Linked DNA regions of Homo sapiens: regions 1, 3, 4 and 5 are each linked to region 2. Evidence: fine-mapped expression QTL. A gene starts in region 2. Each other region holds a variant in brackets. All regions are shown on one strand. Distances are from middle to middle. Region 1 has its middle 23 kb from the start of OR10H3. Region 2 holds the start of CYP4F12 (cytochrome P450 family 4 subfamily F member 12). Region 3 overlaps OR10H5 (olfactory receptor family 10 subfamily H member 5). Region 4 holds the start of CYP4F3 (cytochrome P450 family 4 subfamily F member 3). Region 5 has its middle 5.4 kb from the start of OR10H1.

Evidence for each region.
Region 1: its variant is fine-mapped to the expression of CYP4F12 in esophagus muscle (GTEx, PIP above 0.99). The same link has a PIP of 0.9 or more in atrial appendage, gastroesophageal junction, lung, sigmoid colon, subcutaneous fat and tibial artery.
Region 3: its variant is fine-mapped to the expression of CYP4F12 in whole blood (INTERVAL, PIP above 0.99).
Region 4: its variant is fine-mapped to the expression of CYP4F12 in whole blood (TOPMed, PIP above 0.99).
Region 5: its variant is fine-mapped to the expression of CYP4F12 in whole blood (TOPMed, PIP above 0.99).

Annotation. Positions count from the first base shown.
Region 1 is chr19:15,758,195-15,763,298 of GRCh38, forward strand. It overlaps the pseudogene CYP4F24P. Among named protein-coding and RNA genes, the nearest start is that of OR10H3, 23 kb to the left of the region's middle. The variant G/C (reference allele first, on the strand shown) is at 2,205.
Region 2 is chr19:15,670,941-15,676,044 of GRCh38, forward strand. It overlaps CYP4F12 (cytochrome P450 family 4 subfamily F member 12), which reads left to right and starts at 2,147. Exons shown (of 13, transcript NM_023944.4): 1 at 2,147-2,195; 2 at 2,589-2,787. The coding sequence starts at 2,590.
Region 3 is chr19:15,792,788-15,797,891 of GRCh38, forward strand. OR10H5 (olfactory receptor family 10 subfamily H member 5) reads left to right here. Exons shown (of 2, transcript NM_001004466.2): 2 at 1,251-5,104. The coding sequence starts at 1,262. The coding sequence ends at 2,209. Among named protein-coding and RNA genes, the nearest start is that of OR10H5, 7.7 kb to the left of the region's middle. The variant T/C (reference allele first, on the strand shown) is at 2,344.
Region 4 is chr19:15,639,408-15,644,511 of GRCh38, forward strand. It overlaps CYP4F3 (cytochrome P450 family 4 subfamily F member 3), which reads left to right and starts at 1,490. Exons shown (of 13, transcript NM_000896.3): 1 at 1,490-1,538; 2 at 2,008-2,206. The coding sequence starts at 2,009. The variant T/C (reference allele first, on the strand shown) is at 2,722.
Region 5 is chr19:15,818,501-15,823,604 of GRCh38, forward strand. It overlaps the pseudogene ZNF861P. Among named protein-coding and RNA genes, the nearest start is that of OR10H1, 5.4 kb to the left of the region's middle. The variant T/A (reference allele first, on the strand shown) is at 1,968.

The sequences.
Region 1 (5,104 bases), 87 kb after region 2:
TGATTTTTCTTATTTCCTTTTTCTCCTTGAGGATGTGACTTTAATGTTTATAGTTTATTTTAACCTATGGCTCTGGGTGCTTTCAGGGGTCCAATGATGTGATCTATCCTCAAGACTCCCAGCAGTGGGTAACAGCACCAGCTCTGATGGGGGTGGCAGAGGGGTGACGTAGATTCTGTGATATTGTTTGGTTATAAATAGGCTTAATTTGGCTTTCTCAAATGCCAGTTGTAGTAGTAATGAACTGGTCATGTGGACAGACTGAGAACCTCCTGATTAACCAAGTTGATGCAGGCAATGGTGATAACCGAGGTCACACACAAGTTTTCTCCTTCCTGGTTGCTGTTATGTGCCTGCAGAGGTTATAATGGACTCTGTCAATTGGCCTACAGCCAGGATGTGAAGCTTGCAAAAGAGCACTAGCTGCAGTGGTAGCAGTGGGATTTGTGCTTGTCTTTTGTAATCTCGTTTGTCTATTTCACCTTTGTTGTCTGTGCTGTTGAGTTCTTATCAAAAAAGTTCTTGCCCATATCAATGGCCTGAAGAATTTCCCCAATGTTTTCTTCAAGTAATTCATAGCTTCAGGTCTTGCATTTAAGTCTTTAATCCATTTTGATTTGATTTTTGAATACAATAAGAGATAAGAGTTCAGTTTCATTATTCTGCATATGGACATCCAGTTTTCTCACCACCATTTACTGAAGAGATTGTCTTTTCCCCATTGAATATTCTTGGCACCACTGATCTTTGACAAAGGTACAAAGAAAATGCAATGGTCCTGTACAAGAAAATATAATGTATTTGGAGATCAGAATCAAGGACAAGGCGACTGAGTGTAACAAGGGAGGGATATCGGCTGGAGAGATTTGACAAGTCAGCAGGGTGCAGAGATGCAGAATTCCTTAAGCTATGAACAGAGGTCAGCTTTACTAGTGGGACATTATTTTAAGACATTAACTGAGGATTCTCTCCTTCTCCTACCACCCTGCCACATTTTAGGTGCTTTTACCACTCTTGGAAAAAATTGTCTCCTAAATGTACAGTCCTCTAAAAATGAAGAGATTATTCAAGAAGCACAGATATTGGAATTTTTGCCTATGAGTTCCAAAACAGTATTTAAAGTCATGGTAGAAAAAAACTATCTTGAAAGGCAACATGCTTTATTAACCAGACTTTCTCAGAGAGCAGGTAATAATGGCCGTATTTATTGAGCATTCAATGTGCACCAGGCACAGTTCTGAGTCTCTCATATTTTGTCCTCAGGAAAACCCTGACAAAGGTAGCATTGTTGTCCCCATTATATGCTTGAGAAAACTGAAGAAAAGAGAGGAGAATTAACTTGCCCAAGCCACACAGCAAAGCTGAGACTTGAGCCCAAGTAGTCTGGTTCCAGATGTCATGCCTTTGGGATGGTGTTTTGCTTCCAGTCATCTGGCTTTGGATCTCAAGGGTCAAACAGGATGGCCCTGACTGCACCCCACCCCAACATGGGCAGGTGATGGGAATGAAGGAGGAACCTAGAGGTGAAAGGGTGGGGATGTGCTGAACCCCTGACATGTGTGAGGGTGCCTGGCACATAGCAGAGGAGAGTAGGGGGAGGATTCAGGTAGTATCTGTTGGCCAGGCTGCCTGGGCAGAGTCAGAGGGTTCAAAAGAGGAAAAAAAATGGAGCTGTCTGAAGGTAGGGGAAGGGGGTTCACAAAAGCGATCAACTTGAAGGGGGAGACGTAGGGTGGGATGCTGGCAAGAAAGGGAGCTAAGAATTCCTAAAAGCCTACCAGGATAGAAGCTGCACCCTTCTATCCCTGTGTTCTGAGCTGGCTAAGGACCTCGGTCTTGGGACACTCCCAAAGCATGGAGGCCCTATGATCAGCCAAAGAGGCAGTCAGGTTCTTGGGTTCAGTGACAACACCCCACCTAACCCGCCCAGGTTATGCCCCTTCCCTGACGCCTCCCAGTCCTCAAGAGCCCCCTGCTGGCTGTCAGTAGAGGCCCAGGCACAGTTTTATTCCGGAGAATCTGGAAAGGCAGGTGGATGGGTCAGAGGGTCACTGCAAGCCCGCGTTCAGGGGCTCCACTCGCAGCCAAAGTCCTCCTTCAGCGCGCATGATCAGCTCCGGCTTCCTGCGGGGCTCCGTGTGGTCCAGCAGGAAGCGGAAGCGCAGCAGCGTCAGCGCCAGGACCACCTTCATCTTCGCCATGGC[G/C]AACGCCTGCCCGATGCAGTTCCTGCGGGTGGGAGTGGGGACTGTGACTGCGCCCAGGATCCGCATTTGGGCCCCATCACGCCGGAAACCTGGCCCGGGATCCTCAACCGCACCCAGATCAGCCTGAGAGATAGAGAGGGGCTGAGCATGCGTGGGACCCCCCTGTGGGTTTGCATGTCCCCCAGAGCCTGGGCCAGACTCCAGCTCCCAGCTCAGACCAGCAGATGGAGGAGGGGATTCTGAGCACTCTGCGGACCCTCTAGGACCTACTCACCCCCATTCTATGGACATTTTCCCATAAACTGTGAAGGAATGGAGGGAAAGAGAACTGGAACTGGGACCATCTGCAAACTTCCCCCTTTTTCGACCCTCGCACCTATCACCCCATCCCCATACCAGACACAGGTGGCCCTTACCTGGGTCCCGCAGAGAAGGGAATAAAAGCCAGAGGTGACCTCTCCTTGCTGTTCTCTGAGTTGAAGCGGAAGGGGTTGTAGACCTGGAGGTAAGACCAAGAGGGCTGCTGGGTGGGGTCTCCCAGGTCCAGCAGCCTTGGAAAGACAGTTGTGTGTGTGTTGGGGCGAGGTGATGTTGGATTTTCCTGATCAAAACCCTGCCTCCTCCTCTAGGAACCTTGGAATTGACAAAGAGGGCAGGGGGTCGGGGGTGGATGGGAAAGGCAGCACCTCAGGATCCGGTCACACAGTTGGGTTGTGATGGATTCCTATAATGTTGATGATGCAGATAATGCCTGTGGGAGAGAAGGTGGCAGTCAGGACAAGGATCCCCCTGAAGGACCCCTCTTCCTACCCGGGGGGCTCCTCCCCATGAGGCTGTGAGCATCTTTGGGGATGACCCTACCATCTGGGAGCACAATGTCCCAGATGCGGTGGCGGGAGGTGTACGGAACAGGGGGATGCAACCGCAGGCTCTCCTTCACGCACATGGTCAGGAAGGGCAGCTGGGCCAGGTCGTACCTAAGGCAACACCCCAGCCCCAATCATTATCAAGGGAGCAAAGACACACTTCTCCAGCTTCTCTATTTCCAAGTGAGACCTTTTCTCCCTGTAACAAAATAAACTCCACATGGATCAAAAGTTTGAGAATTAGAAAAACAGAAAAAATTAGAAAAACAGAGAATTAGAAGTACCAGAGAAAATTTAGCCAAGTAGTTAAAAATATATACTCTGAGGAAAACACACCCAGAAGCCAGCTGAAAAAAGTTAACAAATTTGCATAAAAATAAATATTGTCTATGGCAAGAAAGCAAACTCAAATGCAAATGAATAAGAAACAAAATACCCAGATCCAATGTTTTGCTCTTATTTCGCATGGAACTAGAGATACCAGCAAGTGCAATTAGGCAAGGGAAAAACAAGAGAGTCATGCAATTTGAAATGTGGGAGTAAATGTATCATTTTGGCAGATAGTGATGTTATACTTAGAAAACACAGGAAGCTCCACTGGAAAACGTTTATAAACGTTTAAGATCCAGTAAAGGAGCTGAATTATCTGCTTAATCTTTCTTCTTTTGCCTTGGCTATTTAAAATTTTAATACCATCTAAACCTATCTGATTCAGAATTTGAAAACTGTAAAATATAATCCACTCCTATGGCCCAATGCCATCTACTTCTCCCCACATGTTGCCCAGGTTATTATTTTTTTAATGTGTCCTTCCTGTGCTAATATTTAGTATATTAAAAAAATTATATAGGAGCACACCATCTACTATACACTAGTATTCTGCATCTTTTTTTTTTTTGAGACAGAATCTTACTCTGTTGCCCAGGCTGGAGTGCAGTGGTGCAATCTCCGCTCACTGTAATCTCCACCTCCCAGGTTCAGGTGATTCTCCTGCCTCAATCTCCTGAGTAGTTGGGGCTTCAGGCCTGCACCACCATGCCTGGCTAATTTTTTTGATTTTTAGTAGAGATGGGATTCCACCACGTTGGCCAGGCTGGTCTTGAACCCCTGACCTCAGATGATCTGCCCACCACAGCCCACCTCAGCCTTCCGAAGTTCTGGGATTATAGCCATGACCCACCGTGCCTGGCCTATATCTTTTTCTCATTTAACAGTTTATCACTTTTTCTTAGCCCCTGGAACTTACGTCAAAATAAGGTTATCCCTACTCTGGAGCTATGAAATAATTTTCTCATGGTTTCATCTAGGGCTTTTAAGACTCTTTTAAAAAAATTTTATTAATCTGGACATTATCTTGTCATAAGACATGAGAACCAGCTTGTTGCCTTTTTTCCAGAAGGCTTTCCAGTTGTCCCAAGAGCTTTTACTTATTTTTTCTCTTGATACACAGCATCATCTTTAGCATGTACTGTGTTCATTGGGCACAGAATTTATATGTATAAATCATTAGTTTTTCATGTAGAAATAACCACCAACTGAAAAGATGATAATAAAAGATGCTAGTCATAATAATATAAAATACCTGGATTAAACTTAAAAAGAAACATGAAATCTCTGTATTTTATTATAAATTTCTCTCAATCCAAATAAAAGATACACTTTACCATGGCAACAAATGTATGTAAGGGGTGATTTAAAAAAAAGTCACTCTACCAGCTATTAAAACCTATTAAGAAGTTGCAGTAATAGCAATAGTCTGGCAATGCTGTAAGAACAGAAAAACAGACCTATTCAAAAGACTAGAAAGCTCAGAGACAGACAAGTGAATAAATGAAAACTTCCCATCTGCTGAAGGAAGCTCTACGAAACTCTGGGAAATAGATGGGTACTATGGCTGCAAAAGAAAATGTAGACGAACGAAACTCTGGGAAATAGATGGGTACTATGGCTGCAAAAGAAAATGTAGACGAATTTGACTTCATAAAAATTAACCAAAAGTACCCTCAAACAAGTCAAAAGGCAATCTTTTGCAAC
Region 2 (5,104 bases):
AGCCAGGTGCTGATCCAAGGGCCTCAAGATATTTCCCCTTTGGGGCTATCACACTGCCTGAGATTACTCCATTATAAATGTCCCTATATTAATATGGCATTGACACTAAAGAATGGGGGTGGAGCAGCATGGCAGAGGGAACGGATTTGGACTTGAGGGTCTCATAGTCTTGAGTTCCTATGAGCTCTGCAACTTGGACTAGAGGCCTGCCCTCTCTGAGCCTCAGTTTGCTTTTGTGTTAAATGGACACCTTCTCTCCTCTGGATGCCATCACTCAGGTCTCTTCAACAATGCCCAGGGTTCTGGCCTAGGGAGCTGTTGGGAGGGTGGTGGGACAGCTTTGGGCACTGTGATGCAGGTGAGCATCTGATACAAGCAGGTGCACGTTATATAGAGCACCTGGCACATAGTAGGTGCACCTTATGTAGAGCACCTGGCACACAGTAGGTGTACTTTATGTGGCGTACCTAGCACATAGTAGGTACACTTTATGCGGCATACCTGGCACACAGTAGGTGCTCTTTATGTAGCATATCTGGCACACAATAAGGCACACTTTATATAGTGTACCTGGCACACAGTATGTGTGCTTTATGTCAAGTATGTTGCACCGAGTAGTTTTACTTTATGTAGGGGACCTAACACACGGGAGAAGCATTTTATGTGGAACATCTGGCACACAGTAGGTGTGCTTTATTTAGAGCACCTGGCACACAGCAAGCATGGTTTATATAAAGGGCCAGGGACTCAAGATACAGGATTTGTGAAGGGCTCCCAGCATACAGTAGACAGTATTTATGTGGAGCTCCTGGCACACAGTAGGTGCACTATATGTAGAATAGCCAGCACACAGTAGACAAGATTTATGTAGATTACTTGATGCAGAGTAGGTGCGCTTTCTGTGGGTCACCAGGTACGTAGTACACATGCTCAATGTGGAGCACCTGACACACAGTAGGTATGCTTTATATACAGCACATGGCACAGAGTAGGCACGCTTTATATGAAGTACTCTGCATAAAGTAAGCTTACATTATGTACAGCATGCTGCACACAGTAGGTGAGCTTTATGTGGCATACCTGGCACATAGTAGACAGAATTTATGTACAGTATCTGATACACAGTAAGTGCACTTTATATAGTGAAACTGGCACACAGTAGGTGCACACAGTAGTGCTTTCCGTACAGTCTTTCGCATGGAGTAGAGACAGGCACACAGCAGCTCAAGTGCTAGTTGTCATCCCCTTCCCTTCAGTCCCTCTTTTTGGAGCTCCCTTTTCTTAGGAGCCTTCCTCCGTCGCCCTCTAAGGCCTCATCTGACATCCCATTTCCCAGATGGGAAGCCTGAGCCCAGGATGGCCACACTGCCCACAGTCAGAGAAAGGACAGGGCAGAACAAGGACTCCACTCGGGATCCCCTTGCTCTGCCCTCCCCTGCCTGGACCCCGTCAGCTCAAGGCCCCTCTCAGCCTCATCCCCTGTGCCTCCGCTCTGTCCTCCTAAGCTGAGCCCAGCTTCTAGGTTTGCTCCTCCAGCTGGGCTCTTTATCCCCAGAATCTGACGAAGGTAATCCTCAGCGGGGTTGGGGCTGGATTCTTTCTTCCTGCTTCAAGCAGTCAGGCCTCAACTCAGGCCCTGGGCTGCCAGGAGGCAGGACTTGAACTCTTGCCAGGCTGTGAAGCCAGAGATGAGAGGCTTCTGTCTCTGAATCTCCTAAGTCTGCACCAAGATGTAGTGCCTGACATCCTCCCCGCCCATGTTTGGAGAGGAGCCCAGATGATCTGGGACAAGGGTTGGCCTGGCCCAGCTCAGCTGGCTGCCAACTGTCATGATAAGTATATGCTTTTATCTGAACACCCTTGTCTTGGAAGGGCAGGGTGGAGGTAAACTTGGGGTTCAGAGTCCCCTCTAACCACCCTCCAACTTCCCCTGCAAACTCCCAAGAAGGTACTGAGACCTGAGAATTCAGTGCTCGTGCTGGGGCACCCTGAGCTGCACCCAGTGGGCCCAACCCCAGGTTTTGGCTGGCTGCCCAGGCACGGAAGACACACCCAGGCTGTGGGGATTGGCTGCCTCAGCCCAGCCCAGCCCAGCCCCGCCTCCTACGGCCTTCCCTAGATCAGGGGCCAGGGCCAAAGACCTCCCAGCAGAAGAGGAGAAGAGGTTGTGTGGGACAAGCTGCTCCCGACAGAAGGTACCAGGCTGGGGGTGGCAGGGCTGGAAGGTCCTGGCCTGGGATGAAGAGGGGACTGCCTAAGGCTGGGGTGGCTCCAAGATGCTGGCATGGGAAACTGGGGGTTTCCTGGTAACTGGACTCCTAGCAAACTCCCAAGGATTCAGGTGGGGCCCTTCTGGACTCTAATCGGCCCATCTCTTTCCCTTTCTGTGTGGTTACCAGGTTACTGGAGGCCACTTAGTTGTTGGTTTTGGTTGGGACTTTCTGGACTTCAGATCTCAGCCCTCGTTTACTCACCCCTGAGCCCTCCCTGCCCTGCCCCCAGCAGTTCCTGACTTCGCCCCTATACACTGTCCCCGGAGCTCTTCCCTGGGCCTCAGGTCCTCACCCTGCATCCCCTCTGCCCTGCAGGATGTCGCTGCTGAGCCTGCCCTGGCTGGGCCTCAGACCGGTGGCAACGTCCCCATGGCTACTCCTGCTGCTGGTTGTGGGCTCCTGGCTACTCGCCCGCATCCTGGCTTGGACCTATGCCTTCTATAACAACTGCCGCCGGCTCCAGTGTTTCCCACAGCCCCCAAAACGGAACTGGTTTTGGGGTCACCTGGGCCTGGTGAGTGTGACAGCAAAATGTGTCTGGGGTCTCAGGGTGGATGGACTTCCAGAGGAGCAGGAATGGGGCTCAGTGAGCTAGGTATTGATGGTGGCTGGGGTCTGCGACCCCAGAGAAGCAAGAGAGATGGCTCACTCATTCCTCTGCTAACTCACTCATTCCTCTACCCACTCACTCCTCTACCCACTCACTCACTCCTCTACCCACTCACTCACTCCTCTACCCACTCACTCATTCCTCTACCCACTCACTCATTCCTCTACCCACTCACTCCTCTACCCACTCACTCACTCCTCTACCCACTCACTCACTCCTCTCCTCACTCACTCATTCCTCTCCTCACTCACTCATTCCTCTACCCACTCACTCACTCCTTTCCTCACTCACTCACTCCTCTCCTCACTCACTCATTCCTCTCCTCACTCACTCATTCCTCTCCTCACTCACTCATTCCTCTACCCACTCACTCACTCCTCTACCCACTCACTCAATCCTCTACCCACTCACTCACTCCTCTACCCACTCACACATTGCCCTCCTCACTCACTCATTCCTCTCCTCACTCACTCATTCCCCTCCTCACTCATTCCTCTCCTCACTCACTCATTCCTCTACCCACTCACTCATTCCTCTCCTCACTCACTCATTCCTCTACCCACTCACTCATTCCTCTCCTCACTCACTCATTCCTCTCCTCACTCGCGCATTCCTCTCATTCGCGCATTCCTCTCATTCACTCATTCCTCTCCTCACTCACTCATTCCTCTCCTCACTCTTATTCGTCTGCTCACTCACTCATTCCTCTGCTCACTCATTCCTCTCCTCATTCACTCCTTCCCCTCATCACTCACTCATTCCTCTGCCCACTCACTCATTCCTCTACCCATTCACTTATTCCTCTATCCACTCACTTTTTGCTCTCCCCACTCACTCATTCCTCTCCTCACTCACTCATTCCTCTCCTCATTCACTGATTCCTCTACCCACCGACTCATTCCTTTCCTCATTCATTCATTCCTCTGCAGTTCCATGCCAAACCTTTCTCACCTCCCTGTCCTCCCACCTCAGCCTGCTTGGATCCTTTTCCTGCCTGTCTTCCCTACCGTAGTGCCCCTCCCAGAGGCTCCTGTATGGTTGTGGGGTGCACAGAGCAGGGCTCTCCTGGCATTCCCACCTTCTCCACTGCTGGACTTGAAGCCTTCTGAGCCCCGATAGACAGGCTGCTCCCTGCATGGCCCATTTGCTTGTATCTGCCCATCTCTGGGCTGCTGCTTTCCCGCAGGAATTATCTCTGACTTCCTTCCCCACGGAGGGACACAGCTGGACCAGAAGAGAAGTGCAGGCAGTCTCCCACACCCTCTCCTTCCAGGGACAATGTGCTCTTCCCCAGTAAGATGTCCCAGTGAGCCCTGTAGCCCAACCTGGATATAATTTGGCCACTCCCTTCCCCTTTCAGAAGCCGTCCTTGGTACTCCCAAACCTTTCCCTCCGACTGGGACCGGCCCTCCCCTTTGGGGGATGTGGCCTCTGTCTGCTCACTTACAAAAGGCAGGATTGATCGGTGTGTCCACAGGTGCACAGGAGGCACTAGCACAGAACCTGGCATAAGTGAGGCTCTCCTAGGTGGGAGCTGCCATCCTGATGGACATTAGAGTCACCTCTGCTCCCCTGGAGGCTGCTGAGAATGGAGGGCCCTCAGGACGCAGGCCCTTTGTCTGTGGGAGGAACCAGTGCCCATGTGGACCAACCAGGACACAAAAGGATATGGCAACCAGCTCTAGGGATATGTCCTGAGGCCACACTGCTGCCCACAAACCTCCTTCCATGGGGACCTTCCCATATAGCAATCCCCAGATTGAAATCAATCCAGGATGAGAAAACACATCCTCTTGAGCAGACAGCTTGTCTTCTCTCTCTGCTTTGGTATTTACCCTTGGATCTTGGGGACAGCTCCAAGAGAGAAGGAGCAGAAGTCAGCAGAAACCCACTGCAGCTGCTGAGAATCCAGACACGCTGCTCACTGCAGAGGCTGCACCACATCCGGTGGCTGTGGGGGGACTTGCTGTGGCTTCATCTAGGGAGGTGCATTAGTCAGGGTTCTCCCTAGAAACGGAATCTCCTTAGAAACAGATAGGGTGTTTCTTCTTATCTCTAATGCATGTATGTATGGAGACAGAAAGAGATAGAGAGATAAGAATTTATTATGGGAATTGGATAATGTGATGATGGAGGCCAAGAAGTCCCATGATATATCATCTGCAAGCCAGAAACCAGGGACACTGGTGGTGTAAATTCAGCCTGAGTCCAGAAAGGCCTG
Region 3 (5,104 bases), 120 kb after region 2:
TTTATTCCAGGCCCTGTGGCAGGTACATTATGAGCATAATCTTATTAAATCCTCATAACAACCCTGTCAATTTGGGATTATTATCCATTTCTTTTAGGGATGAGAAAACTAAGGCTCACAACAATCAAGGGACCAACCCACGGTCCCCTAGCTCTGAAGTGGGGATCCAACCCAGGTGTGGCTGAATAGAGACCACCGAGATTTAAAAATAGGAATAATAATTATTATTTTTATCAGTATTACTATTTGTGAGGTTCTTACTACGGGCCAAGACTTGTGCAAAGCAAGTAAGATGCATGATCTTATTTAAACCTTTACACAGTTTGTTTTTGTTTTTGTTTTTGTTTTATGAGATAGCATCTCGCTCTATCACCCAGGCTGAAGTGCAGTGGCTCAGTCATAGCTCACTGCAGCCTTGACCTCCCAGGCTCAATCGATCCTCCCACCTCAGCCTCTCAACTAGCCAGGACCACAGACATGCACCACAATGTGTGGCACATTTTCTTATACTTCGTAGACATGGGGGTCTTGCTATTTTGCCCAGACTGGTCTCAAGCTCCTGGGCTCAAGTGATCCTTCTGCTTCAGCCTCTGACGTAGCTGGGACCACAGGCATGCACCACCATGCCTGGCTAATTTTTTTTTAAATTTTTATTTTGTAGAGATGGAGTTTCACTATGTTACTCAGGGTGGTCTCAAACTCCTGGCCTCAGGTGACCCCCCTCTGCCTCCGCCTCCCAAAGTGCTGAGATGACAGGTGTGAGCCATCATTCCCAGGCTAAACTTCAGCACATTATTATTAACATATTTTTGGCCAGGCGTGGTGGCTCAAGACTGTAATCCCAACACTTTGGAAGGCTGAGGAAGGTGGATCACCTGAGGTCAGGAGTTCGAGACCAGCCTGGCCAACATGCTGAAACCCATCTCTACTAAAAATACAAAAATCAGCTGGCGTGGTAGCACATGCCTGTAATCCCAGCTACTCTGGAGGCTGAGGCAGGAGAATCACTTGAACCCAGGAGGCAGAGGTTGCAGTGAGCTGAGATCACACCACTGCACTCCAGCCTGGGTGACAGAGCGAGACCCCATCTCAAAAACTAAAACTAAAAATAAATAACATATTTTTGCACATGGAGTAACCATGGCTTGGACAGATGAAGAAGGCGCTCTCAGATGTCCTCCCAGGTGGGAGTCACTAGACACCCCTGTGCTCCTAACCACTGGGTCTTCTTTCCTCTCTCCACCAACTAGGGGTGGCCGCCATGCAGGGGCTAAACCACACCTCCGTGTCTGAATTCATCCTCGTTGGCTTCTCTGCCTTCCCCCACCTCCAGCTGATGCTCTTCCTGCTGTTCCTGCTGATGTACCTGTTCACGCTGCTGGGCAACCTGCTCATCATGGCCACTGTCTGGAGCGAGCGCAGCCTCCACATGCCCATGTACCTCTTCCTGTGTGCCCTCTCCATCACCGAGATCCTCTACACCGTGGCCATCATCCCGCGCATGCTGGCCGACCTGCTGTCCACCCAGCGCTCCATCGCCTTCCTGGCCTGTGCCAGTCAGATGTTCTTCTCCTTCAGCTTCGGCTTCACCCACTCCTTCCTGCTCACTGTCATGGGCTACGACCGCTACGTGGCCATCTGCCACCCCCTGCGTTACAACGTGCTCATGAGCCTGCGGGGCTGCACCTGCCGGGTGGGCTGCTCCTGGGCTGGTGGCTTGGTCATGGGGATGGTGGTGACCTCGGCCATTTTCCACCTCGCCTTCTGTGGACACAAGGAGATCCACCATTTCTTCTGCCACGTGCCACCTCTGTTGAAGTTGGCCTGTGGAGATGATGTGCTGGTGGTGGCCAAAGGCGTGGGCTTGGTGTGTATCACGGCCCTGCTGGGCTGTTTTCTCCTCATCCTCCTCTCCTATGCCTTCATCGTGGCCGCCATCTTGAAGATCCCTTCTGCTGAAGGTCGGAACAAGGCCTTCTCCACCTGTGCCTCTCACCTCACTGTGGTGGTCGTGCACTATGGCTTTGCCTCCGTCATTTACCTGAAGCCCAAAGGTCCCCAGTCTCCGGAAGGAGACACCTTGATGGGCATCACCTACACGGTCCTCACACCCTTCCTCAGCCCCATCATCTTCAGCCTCAGGAACAAGGAGCTGAAGGTCGCCATGAAGAAGACTTGCTTCACCAAACTCTTTCCACAGAACTGCTGAAATGGCTGACTTTCTCTCAAGAGATGTAGCGAATGGGAACACTTTAGTCTTCCTCCTTTATTTCTTTTCCTTTCCTCCCTCCCTCCTTTCCTCCCTCCCTCCCTTCCTTCCTTCTTTCCTTCCTCCCTCCCTCC[T/C]TTCCTCCCTCCTTCTCTGACCTACAGTCCACCCTCCCTCCCCCCTCCTCCTTGCCTTCCTTCCATCCTTCCTCCCTCCCTCCCTCCCCCTTCCTTCTTCTCTGCCTACTTCCCTCTTTCCCTTCTCTCTGTCTCTTTCTGTTTCTATACCTCTCTGTCTCTGTCACTCTCTTTCTCCCTCCTTGTTCTTTTGTTTTTGTTTTTGTTTTTGTTTTGACTGAGTCTCGTTCTGTCACCCAGGTTGGAGTGCGTTGGCACAATCTCGGCTCACTGCAACCTCCACCTCCTGGGTTCAAGCGATTCTCCTGCCTCAGCCTCCCGACTAGCTGGGATTACAGGCACACACCACCATGCCTGGCTAATTTTTGTATTTGTAGTAGAGACGGGGTTTCACCATGTTGGCCAGGCTGGTCTCGAACTCCTGACCTCAGGCATTATGCCCACCTCAGCCTCCCAAAGTGCTGGGATCACAGGCGTGAGTCACCACACCCAGCCCTGACTTTTTTACTGTAGACATCCCAGTGGTTTCTTATTGGGGTTTTGATTTGCATTTCCCCAATGACTAATGACAGGCTTTAGGTGCTTAACACATGTGAGTTATTTTACTTCACAGGGAAGATAGGATTACTAACTCCATTTTGTTTGTTCGTTAGTTGGTTGGTTTTATACACGGTCTTGCTCTGTTGCCCAGGCTGGAGTGCAGTAGTCCAATCATGGCTAAGTGCAGCGTCAACTTCTGGGCTCAAGCAATTCTCCCACCTCAGCCTCCAGAGAAGCTAGCACTGCAGATGCATGCCACCACAAGGGTAACTTTGTATTTTTTGTAGCGACAGGATCTCACGATGTTGCCCAGGCTAGTCTTGAACTCCTGGCCTCAAGCAATCCTGCCATCTCGGCCTCCCCAAATGCTGGGATTACAGGCATGAGCCGTGACACCGGCCAAGTTCTATTCTGAAGATGAGGAAGCTAAGTTATGAAGAGATTAAGTTAATTAGCCAAAGGTCTTGTCACTGACATGGAAAAGCTAGAATTGAACCTATTCTTTAAATTAGAGCTGGGGATAAGAAGTACACATTTCTCAGGGCCTGTGAAGAGGGGAAGTCAGTCTGTTCCAGAAAGGGAGGAAGAGCTGGATTGAAAACAAGAGACACATTCTAGCTAGCACCAATGGAGTGAGCCCAGAACTAGAAATATGCTGTCTCTATGGGTTTAGGAGGAATCACCCAGTGTCAGAGAATTAGGGATACACCTTATGAGTTTGGCCAAACTGGCTGTAGTATTTCTGTGTTTTTTAGTAGACGTGTTAATACGAAAGAGTGTGTCACATTCAAATATTAAATTGGGCCAGGCACAGTGCCTCACACCTGTAATTCCAAAATTTGGGGAGGCCGTGACAGGAGGATCACTGGAGTCCAGGAGTTCAAGACCAGCCTGGGCAACAAAGTGAAACCTTATCTCTACAAAAAAATTAAAAAATTAGCTAGACATGGCTGCATGTGCCTGTAGTACCAGCTACTCAAGAGGCTGAGGTGGGAGGATCACTTGAGCCCAGGAGGTTGAGGCTGCAGTGAGCAGTAATTGTGCCACTGCCCTCCAGCCTGAGTGACAGAGTGAGACCTTGTCCCAAAAAATTAAATTAAATTAAATTAAACGCTTTGCAAAAAAAAAAAACTACCCATTAAATCCGGGTTCCTGGGTTATATTAGAAGTTCCGGCCGGGTGCAGTGGCTCATGCCTATAATCCCAGCACTTTGGGAGGCTGAGGTGGGTGGATCACGAGGTCAGGAGTTTGAGACCAGCCTGACCAACATAGTGAAACCCCGTCTCTACTAAAAATACAAAAAATTACCCGGGCGTGGTGGCACATGCCTGTAATCCCAGCTACTCAGGAGGCTGAGGCAGGAGAATTGCTTGAATCCAGGAGGCGAAGGTTGCAGTGAGCCGAGATTGGGCCATGGCACTCTAGCCTGGGTGACAGAGCGAGACTCTGTCTCAAAAAAACAATAAAAAAAAGAAGAAGAAGTTCTAGGGCACTTAACTACTAATATCTGGGGGGGCATTCTTTGCCTCCCCTATAAAATGTAAAGGGATCCCAAATGTTAAACTTCCACCCCCATCACCTCGAGTTGTCATGGAAAAGAGAATGTTATACCCTGTTTATACCCCACGTGTCCTGGGGTGTAGCTAGTGCTTTCTAGCTGATCATGATTCTGAAGATACCTTGGAATAGGCTGGGAAACAGGTAAAAATCAGACTGTGTGAGTTTGAAAGAGTGCAGGAAAGGTGGCTTCTGGGTTATATCCAAGATGTGTCATTGTGGTTCCCCGTGGTGATCAGAAAAGCGAGCCAGCTTGCTGTAGTTTGGTTGACCAATGTCCATGCATTCTGAAATTAAAATAAGCTTTGTGATTACTCCTTCACTTTATTTAGTAGTAGTCATTGTGTAAATTTGAAACAACCGGAGAAGTTGGGCTTAGTGTTGTTTTTATACATGGCATATTCTAGACCCTGAGGGCCAGGTCAGGGTGAGGTGAGGGAGACACCTCACCTCCTTTAAACATTATTTAAAATGTTGACATTTTGTTCACCGTGGATTTTTTTTGCATTCATTTTGGTTTTTTAAAATATTGCATTAGGCCGGGTGTGGTGGCTCACTCCTGTAATCCCAGCACTTTGGGAAGCCGAGGCAGGTGGATCATTTGAAGTCAGGAGTTCGACACCAGCCTGGCCAACATGGTGAAACCCTGTGTCTACTAAAAAT
Region 4 (5,104 bases), 32 kb before region 2:
GCAGGTGGTACTGAGTAGGCACTTTTTATGTAGCGCAGGCAAGAGTAGGAACTCTTCATGTAGAGCAAGCAGCACTCAGTAGGCACCCTTTATGTACAGAAGGCAGCCCACAGTAGGTACACTTTATGGAGCACAGGCAACACTCGAGCAGGCAGCACTCAATAGACCCTCTTTATGTAGATCAGGAAACACTCAGTAGGAAGTCACCATATAGAGCAGGTGGTATCAGTAGGCACTGTTTATGTAGAGCACTTGGCACTCAGTAGGCATGTGTTATGTAGACAGCAACTGGTGCTCAGTGGGCACTCTTCATATACAGGGGGTGGCACTCAATAGGCACTCACTATGTAGAGCAGGTGGCACACAGTAGGCACTCTATGAGGAATATCAGGAACTGAGTATACAGGGTTAATGTAGAGCACCTGGCACACAGTAGGCACACTTTATGGAAAGCACTTGGCACAGAGTAGACAGGATTTAGCACCTGGCACACAGTAGCTGCCCTTCATTTAGAGTATTGGCACACAGTAGAAGTACTTTCCATGCAGCCTTTGTGCAGAGTAGAGACTGGCACACAGCAGCTCAAGTGCTAGTTGCCACCCTTTCCCTTCACTCCTTTTTGGGGCTCCCTCCTCTTAGGAGCCCTCATTGTCCCCCGCTAAGGCCCTCATCGAACATCCCATTTCCCAGATGGGAAGACTGCACCCAGGAGGGGCAGTACTGACCAAAGTCAGAGCAAGGATGAGGCAGAATGAGGACTCCATTCATGGTTCCCTGGCTCTGCCCTTCCCCTGCCTGGACCCCATCCGTTCCCTCTCATCCTAACCCTCCACGTCCCCGCTCTGTCCTCCTATACTGAGTCCGGCCTCCAGATTTGCTTTTCCAGCTGAGCTCTTAATCTCCAGAATCTGACCCAGGTAATCCTCAGTGGGGCTGGATTCTTTGTTCCCGTTCCTAGCAGTCAGGTCTCCAACAGGGCCCTGGACTGCCTGGAGGCAAGACTTGAACTCCATCCAGCAGCAGGGGGATAGAGGCTTGTCTCTTCCAGGTTGCCTGATTCAGCATCCAGAAGTGGTACACGGTGTCCTACCGGCCCAGGGTTAGAGAGGAGCACAGGAGATGATCTGGAACAAGGCTTGGCCTGGCCTGGCTCGCTTGACACCTGAACTCTCAAGTTCATGCTTTTATCTGCCACACACTCAGTAGGTGCTCTTTAAGAGCAGGTGTCACACAGTGGAAACTCTATCTGACCCCTCTCGGCTTACTCTCCACCTTATGTGGGAGGTGCTGAGACCTGAGGATCCAGTGCCTGTGCTGTGTCACCCTGAGCTGGTTCCTCTGCATCCAGCTGGTCTCCCACACCCAGGTTTTGGCCAGCTGCCCAGACATGGGAGCGGCACCCAGGCTGTGGGGATTGGCTGGCCCAGCCCAGCCCAGCCTAGCCTCCCACAGCCTTCCCTACATCAGGGGCCAGGGGAAAAAACCTCCCAGAAGAAGGGGAGAGGAGGTTGTGTGGGACAAGGTGCTCCTGACAGAAGGTGCCAGGGTGGGGGTGGTGGGCCTGGGGCATCCTAGCCTGTGATGGAGATGGGCACTGGGCAAGGGATTGGGCGCACACATAGGGGAGCCCCAGCCTTCCCACATTCTCCATTGCTGCCCAAGGCCCAGGCAGCTCCTGGTTGCTGGCTTGGAGGATGAGTGGTTTTCTAACTGAAACCAAGCCCCTGGCAACGTCCTAATGATTCAGGCTGGGCCTTTCTGGACTTTAATCAGTTTCTCTGTCTTTCTCAATCTAAGTGCTTACCGGGTAACTGGAGGCCACTTGGTTGCTGGTTTTGGCTGGGCCTTTCTGGACTTTACCCCTCAGCCCCTGTTTATCCATCCCTGTTTACTCTTACTGTTCTATCTCCAGCACTGCCCGTCTCTGCCTCTCTCCACTGTCCCTGGAGCTCCCTGGGCCCTTCCCTGGGCCTCAGGACCTCACTCACCACCCCATCTGCCCTGCAGGATGCCACAGCTGAGCCTGTCCTCGCTGGGCCTTTGGCCAATGGCAGCATCCCCGTGGCTGCTCCTGCTGCTGGTTGGGGCCTCCTGGCTCCTGGCCCGCATCCTGGCCTGGACCTATACCTTCTATGACAACTGCTGCCGCCTCCGGTGTTTCCCGCAACCCCCGAAACGGAATTGGTTCTTGGGTCACCTGGGCCTGGTGAGTGTGGCAGCAGGACGGGTCTGGGGTCTCAGGGTGGATGGACTTCCTGAGGGGTAAGAATGAGGCTCAGGTGAGAGGGGGTGGGCTGGGGTCTGGGGTGGCAGAGAAGCAGGGGAGGCGTCTTACTCATTCCTCTGCTTACTCATTTCTGTGAGGTGCCAACCCAAGCCCTTCTCACCTCCCTGTTCTCCCACTCTTGGCCTGTGTTGAATCCTTTTCCTGCCTGTCTTTCCACATTAATGCACCTCTGCGGGGCTCTTGGGCAGGGGGTTGGGTGCACAGAAAGGTGAACCCCTGGCGTTCCCACATTCTCCATTGCTGGACTCGAGGCCTCCTGTACCCACTGTTCAGGGTCCTCTCCCTACCTGGCCTATTTCCTCTTATGAGGGTATAGGTGGGCCAGAGGAGAGGTGTGGGCTGTCTCTCACCTCCACCACATCCGGAGGCACCTTCCTCTTATCTTGTTCCTCCCCAGTAAGATGTCCCAATGGGGTCCTGTTGCCAAACCCACA[T/C]AAAAGTTGGCCACTCACTTCCCCTTTCAGAAGCCTTCCCTGACCTTTCTCCTCCCCCAGACCTTGCCCTCTGACTTAGACCTGCTCTCCCCTTTGCGGAACGTGGTCTCAATCTGCTCATTGCAAATGGCAGGATTGATGGGTGTGTCCACAGGTGAAGTGGGAGGGTGCACAGGATGCACTAGCACAGAGCCTGGTGCAGAAGCTTCTCCCAGGTGGGAGCCACTGTCATGATGGACAGTTAGAGTCACCTCTGCTCCCCTAGTGACTGCTGAGAAGGGAAGGTCCCCTGTGTGCAGAACCTTCTCCATGGGAGGAACTGGAACCTGTGTGGCTGGTGGAGGAACCAGCCAGGGCATGAAGGGATGTGGGGACCAGCCTTAGGGACATGTCCTGAGTCCACACTGCTCCCCACAAACCTCCCCTGTGAGGACCTCCTCATATGCCCACCTCTGGGCTGAAATGACTCCCAGAACAAGGAAATTTTTCCTCTCAAGCTAAGTGGGCCTCTGTGAGTGGACAGTGTGTCTTTTCCTTCTGCCTTGGGATGCGCTCTTGGGACTTGGGGGTGGCCCCAAGAGAGATAGAGCAGGAGGAATGTAGACAGATAGATAGGTAATAGGATAGATGGATGGATGGATGCACAGATAGGGTGAATAGATGGCTGGCTGGCTGGATAAGTAGGTGGGTAGATAGACAGATAGATAGATAGATAACAGGATAGATGGATGGATGGACAGATGGATGCATGGATAAGATGGATGGATGGATGGATGGATGGATGGATGGATGGATAATACATACATAAAGTAGTAGATAAGATGGATACATTAGGTGGATAGATAGGTAGAGTGGATATGTAGGATGGATAGATTAGATGGATGGATAGATAGCTAGATGATTGATAGATAATAGGATAAATGGATGAGTGGATGAATGTACAGATAAGATGGATGGATGGATGGATGGATGGGCAGATAGATATATAGATAGAAAAGTTAGATAGGATGAATAGATTAGATAGATAAATGAATAGATAGATAGGTAGGTAGATAGATAATAGGCTAGATGGATGAATGGATGCACAGATAGGATAGATGAATGGATAGATAGACAGATATATAAGATAGAATGGATGGATTAGATAGATGGATAGATACATAGAAACATAGGTAGATAGATAGATTAGATAGATAGATAGATAGACAGATAGATACATACATACATACATATATAGATACATAGATAGGTAGATATGTAGAGATATATATAGGTAAATAGATAGATAGATAGATAGATAGATAGATAGATAGATAGATAGATAGATAGACAGACAGGCAGACAGACAGATAGATAGATAGAAGAGGGAGTTTATTTCGGGAATTGGCTCACAGGATTATAGAAGCTGAGATGCGTCATGGACTGCTGTCTGCAGGCTGGATAAACAGACACTGGTTGTGTAACTGAGTCCAAAGGCCTGAGACGGTGGAGTTCTGGTGTCCAAGGGCAGGAGAAGATGGATGTGCCAGCCCCACAACAGAGCAAATTAGCCTTTCCTCTGCATTTTTGTGCTACCTGGGCTCTCAACAGATTGAATGAGCTCTGCCCACACTGGGGAGGGTGATTCTTCCTTCCTCAGTTTACCAAATTGAATGCCAGTCTCTTCTGGAAACACCCTCACAGACGGATGATCAACTATCTGGGCATCCTTTAGCCCAGTCAAGTGGACACCTAGAATTAACCATGACAGGAGGTGACGGCCCCTGCCTTGCTTGCAGGTCACCCCCACGGAGCAGGGCATGAGGGTCCTGACTCAGCTGGTGGCCACCTACCCCCAGGGCTTTAAGGTCTGGATGGGCCCCATCTTCCCCGTCATCCGTTTTTGCCACCCCAACATCATCCGGTCTGTCATCAACGCCTCAGGTACCACCTGGAATACTTGGTGGTGGGTGCTATGGTGCATTTGAGGCCTGCAAGTCCCTCTATCCCCAAGCCGTGTGTGGCCCCTGCAGTACTCTGGTCTCTCCTTTCCTTCTCTCTCAGCCATCTTCATCTTTCTTTCATGTATTCACTAATTCCCATCTCAGCATCTCCTCTCTCCATTGCCATCTGACCCCCTGTCCTGGTGTTCTGGGCTGCCCTGGGGCCCCAAGAGACCTCAACCCAAGGCCCTGTCCTGGAGGAACCCCCAAGCTTAAGGAGGTGGATGTGGACAGAGACATCCCCAACTTCATGGGGTCAAGAAAGGGCCAGAGGGAGATGGATGACAGCCCAGAGAAGAGCAAGTTCTCTGCTGGGGCAGGCTGGAAGCCTTCCTGGAGGAAGAGTTACTGGAGCCATGTCTGGAACAATGAGTAGGGATGTTTGAAAGGAGAGTGCAGGG
Region 5 (5,104 bases), 150 kb after region 2:
GTTTTATTTTAGTAGTTTCATAGTTTGGGGTCTTAGATTTAAGTCTTTAATCCATTTTGACTTTATTTTTTTATGTGGTGAGAGATAGGGGTCTAGTTTCATTCTTCTGTACATGGATATCTGGTTTTCCCAGGACCATTTACTGAAGACAGTGTCATTTCCCCAGTGTATGTTCTTGGCATCTTTGTCTTGGAGGAATTTAGATACACTGGAGGGACCCGCAGAAATAAGATATGGCAGCACGTATACAAATTAAAGCCTTAAAATTTTTGGAGAGATTTTTCAAAATTTGGAATGATATAAATATAATGAAGAACTTTGAACTTAGCCATTTCTAACTTATCTGTTCCAGGAGCACATAAACAGACTAATCGGGATTATAAAACATGCTCACACTAAGTAACTAATATGCAGACATTTATGGAGCGACAACTGTGTGCCTGGCACCAAGGTACAAAGATAAATGAAGCTGGAAACCTTCTCCTGTGGAGTACACAGTGGCAGGAAAGACACAAATATTAAAGTTAAAATTATGTCACGGTGGCAGGGCACGGTGGCTCACGCCTGTAATCCCAGCACTTTGGGAGGCCGAGGCGGATGGATCATGAGGTCCGGAGTTCGAGACCAGCCTGGCCAACATGGTGAAACCCCGTTTCTACTAAAAATACAAAAATTAGCTGGGCGCGGTGGCAGGCACCTGTAATCCCAGCTACCTGGGAGGCTGAGGCAGGAGAATCGCTTGAACCCAGGAGGCAGAGGTTGCAGTGAGCCAAGATCGCACCACTGCACTCTAGCCTGGGTGATAGAGTTAGACTTCATCTCAAAAAAAAAAAAAATATGTCATGGTGTGATCGATGTTGAGCTAGCAAGGAGGGGTGGCAGGACCAGGAAAAGTCCATCAAAATTGGTGATGGGAGTCATAAGGATGAGTAGACTTCAGCCAGTCAGAAGATCAGAGAAAAGGTGCTACAAGTAGACAGAACAGAGTCTTGAAGATGGCTTCAGAGGGATATGGTGGAACGAGCCTGAATGCAGTCTAGTAAGCCAGGGACATGAGGCAAGGAGAGGACAAAGATGGAAGAGGGTCTGGAGAGGTGGCCAAGGACAGCTTAAGGAGACTTGGAGGGTGGTCGAAGGAGCTGTGGCTTCCTCTTGATGTCTGGAGAGTCACCAGAGGGTTTAAATCCTTGTAATCCCAGCACTTTGGGAGGCCGAGGCAGGAGGATCACTTGAGGCCAGGAGTTCAAGACCAGTCTGGGAAACATAATGAGACCCCCCCATCTCTACCAACAATTATTTACAAATTAAAAATAAATAAATAAATCCTATGAGTGACATGTTCAGCCACCTGAGGGAGGATGGGATCGGGGGAGGTGATGACTGAACAGCTTCAACCAACTCAGAACAGCCAGTTGTCAACTTCTGAAAATTGTTGCAACCTGGTTGTTAAACACAGCTCTGATTAAAAGTAAACTGTATGAAATTACAGTGAAATAAATTAAGGGAATCTAGGAGTGAGCTCTGTCTTCTCACTTCTGTCATGATTGAAAGGTTCATCTATGACTCTTAGCGTTATTTTCAGCACCTACCAATTGATGGCAGGTCTTCTGTAAATACAGATTATAAGGAGATTGATTCTTCTATCTGAAAGTCTCAGAAGTTCTTAGAGACAAATAATTTTCTTAAAGATTAAGCAGGTGAGAAAGTAATGAACTCTAGAAGCTTAAAGCTGTAATAACTGCTTAAAATGTATCACTTCTTAATTATTTCATATATATTTTACCATTGTCTGTGCTTTTGAGTTTATGACTATTGCACGTGTACTGTGGAAATACTCCATATACTAGTAGCACATCAGCAGGCTTCAACCTTTTTGGCACCAGGGACCAGTTTCATGGAAGATAATTTTTCCACGGACTGGGGTTGGGGGATGGTTTTGGGATGATTCAGGCACATGACATTTATTG[T/A]TGTGCACTTTATTTCTATTATTATTACATTGTAATATATAATGAGGTAATTATACAACTCACCATCATGTAGAATCAGTGGAAGCCCTGAGCTTGTTTTCCTGCAACTGGACTGTCCCATCTGAGGGTGATGGGAGACAGTAATAGATCATCAGGCATGAGATTCCCATAAAGAGCACCCAACCCAGATTCCTCGTGTGCACAGTTCACAATAGGGTTCACGCTCCTATAGGAATCTAATACCAGCATGCCACCATTGACCCATCTGACAGGAGGCGGAGCTCAAGTGGTAATGCTCACCCCACCCCACCCCTTCCGCCACTCTCCTGCTGTGTGGCCCAGATCTAACAGCCACAGACCGCTACCAGCTGGGCGTTTTGGGGAACCCCTGTCTTATGGGACACAACAAAACCAGTGCTGAAGAAGAAAAATAACCTTGGCGTCTTCTTCAGTTGTGAGACTATTGTGACCGTGTCTGTGGGTGACTGAGCTCTTATGTAGCTGCAGGGATTGGAGTAACTGAGGTCACTCACACTCATGACCTGGGTTCTGCCACTGCTTCCTCCACCATCTCACATCACAGCCGCTTGGGATCTCTGTTGACTCTTCGAAAGCATGGGTGGATGTGGATTCACAAAGACATTTTCCAGCCAGAAGGCTCAGAGAGGGGACTTAAACTGGAAAACTTAGGCCTAGAAATGGCCACAAGACTGGCACTGAAACGGTATGCCAGTGCTCAAGGATTAGGATGCCCCCAAGGAGGTATCACTTGGGGAAAACCGTTGATGATTATCTCTATGGAATTACAGAAATGCCAAATATATAACCCAAGAAACTTGGTGTGCACTCAATGACACAGCATGGGAGGGAGACCTCTTACTTCTATCCAGATGTTTGTGATGTATGGGTATCTTTGGCCACCGGGTGCTCCTACCATCAAAAAGAGCTTCAAGACAGGCTTGTTGGGGCCTTGAGTCCTTTTACCCTAGTCTTTCAGCTCTTGCTAAGAAGAATCCCAGCTAAGTGTGGTGGCTCACATCTCTAAACCCAGCACTTTGGGAGGCCAAGGCAGGCGGATCACTTGAGGCCAGGAGTTTGAGACCAGCCTGGCCAACATGGTGAAACACCGTCTCTACCATAAATACAAAAAATAGCCGGCCGTGGTGACACGCGCTTGTAATCCCAGCTATTTGGGAGGCTGAGGAAGGAGAATCACTTGAACCTGGGAGGCAAAGGCTGCAGTGAGCTGAGATCGTGCCACTGCACTCCAGCCTGGATGACAAGAGTGAGACCTTGCCACACACACACACACACACACACACACACAAAACTGAAATGATTGTAGGTGCTCCCACAGTGCCTACACACATTGGGTTTCTCTCCAGAATGAGATCTTCCATGTATTCGAAATGAACTGGGAGAGTCAAAGGTTTTCCTACCCACCTTGCATTTGTAAGGTCCATCTCCACTATGCATTTTCACATCTTTGAAGGTTTGGGGGGGAAGTGAATGTTTTCTGAAATTCCTAACATTCATAGAGGTTTTCTCCACTGTGAGGCCTTTCGTGTATGTGAAAGGAGTGGTGAAAACGAAAGGCATTCCCACATGGCTTACATGTATATGCCTTCTGTCTACATTCCTGATATTCACAGGGTTTGCGTCCAAGGCGATCTCTGATGTGCCTTTCAGTGGATGGATAGCCCACGCCGACCTCTCCACACACATGGCTTTCAGGTGGCTTTACTCCAGGAGGCGTTTTCTTATTCAGATTATGACCTGGAATCTGGCTGAAGGCTTCTCCACATTGACTACCTTCTTTATTTTCACAGGGTCTCTCTACCATATGATTTCTGTACAAAATAAGTACATTATTAAGTATTTTTATAAATAATTTATTTGTTATTGATGGGTATTGGATTTATGTGGAGTTTTTTGGAGACAGGGTCTCACTCACTCTGTTGCCAGGCTGGAGTGCAGTGGTGCGATCTCAGCTCACTGCAACCTCCGCCTCCCAGGTTCAAGCGATTCTCCTGCCTCAGCCTCCTAAGTAGCTGGGATTACAGGCACCCGCCACCACACCTGGCTAATTTTTGTATTTTTAGTAGATTCGGGGTTTCACCATGTTGGCCAGGCTGGTCTCAAACTCCTGACCTCAAGTGATCCACCTGCCTCAACCTCCTGGATTTATGTTTTTAACATCATCAGTGGAAGCATAGGTAGGATTTCTAACCTGTTTCCACTGTTTGGCCATGAATGGATTGAATGGTCTGCAGGAGCGCCCAACTACAGCTGCTATGAAAATAGAAATATTAACATGGGGTTTCTTCTTCTTTTTTTTTTAAGACAGGGTCTAGCTCTGTCACCCAGGCTGGAGTGCAATGGCACAATCTTGGCTCACTGCAACCTCTACCTCCCAGGCTCAAGCAATCCTCCCACCTCAGCCTCCCAAGTAAGGGGGACTTATAGGTGTGTGCTGGCACACCTAGCTAATTTTTTTTTTTTTTTGGTAGAGAATAGATCTCCTTATGTTGCCCAGGCTGGTCTCAAGCTCCTGACCTCAAGCAATCCACCCTTCTTGGCTTCCCAAAGTGCTGGGATTATAGGTGTGAGCCACTGCACCTAGCCTATATGTGGTTTCATAATAGTGTTTCCATGTAAACTTTTTTTGCAAACATATATATGTCTCATTTAAGTATATATTTATAGAGAAAGTTTTCTAAGAATAAACAGATTGAAACTGGGCTTGTTTTTAGAATTTCCTGACAGTCTACGATTCTCTTGATGGACACTGCTTTCTCTTGAAAATTACCTTAAATTTCTCCCAGGATTTTGGTACAGATCTTCAATGTTCTTATCTCCCCATTTCTTTCCTAAAATGCAGGTAGAGAAAAATCATTATGAATTATTACAAAATTATTTTAAAATTATTGAATTCTAGGTTCATGGTACACCATGACCATGGTACACTGGACTGCAATGGCACAATCTTGGCTCACTGCCACTTCTACCTCCCAGGCTCAAGCAATCCTCCCACCTCAGCCTCCCAAGTTAGGGGGGGCTACAAGTGTGTGCCAGCACACCAGCTAATTTTTTTGCCTATATATTTATCAAAGTATTTCTTTTCTACATTCCAAATC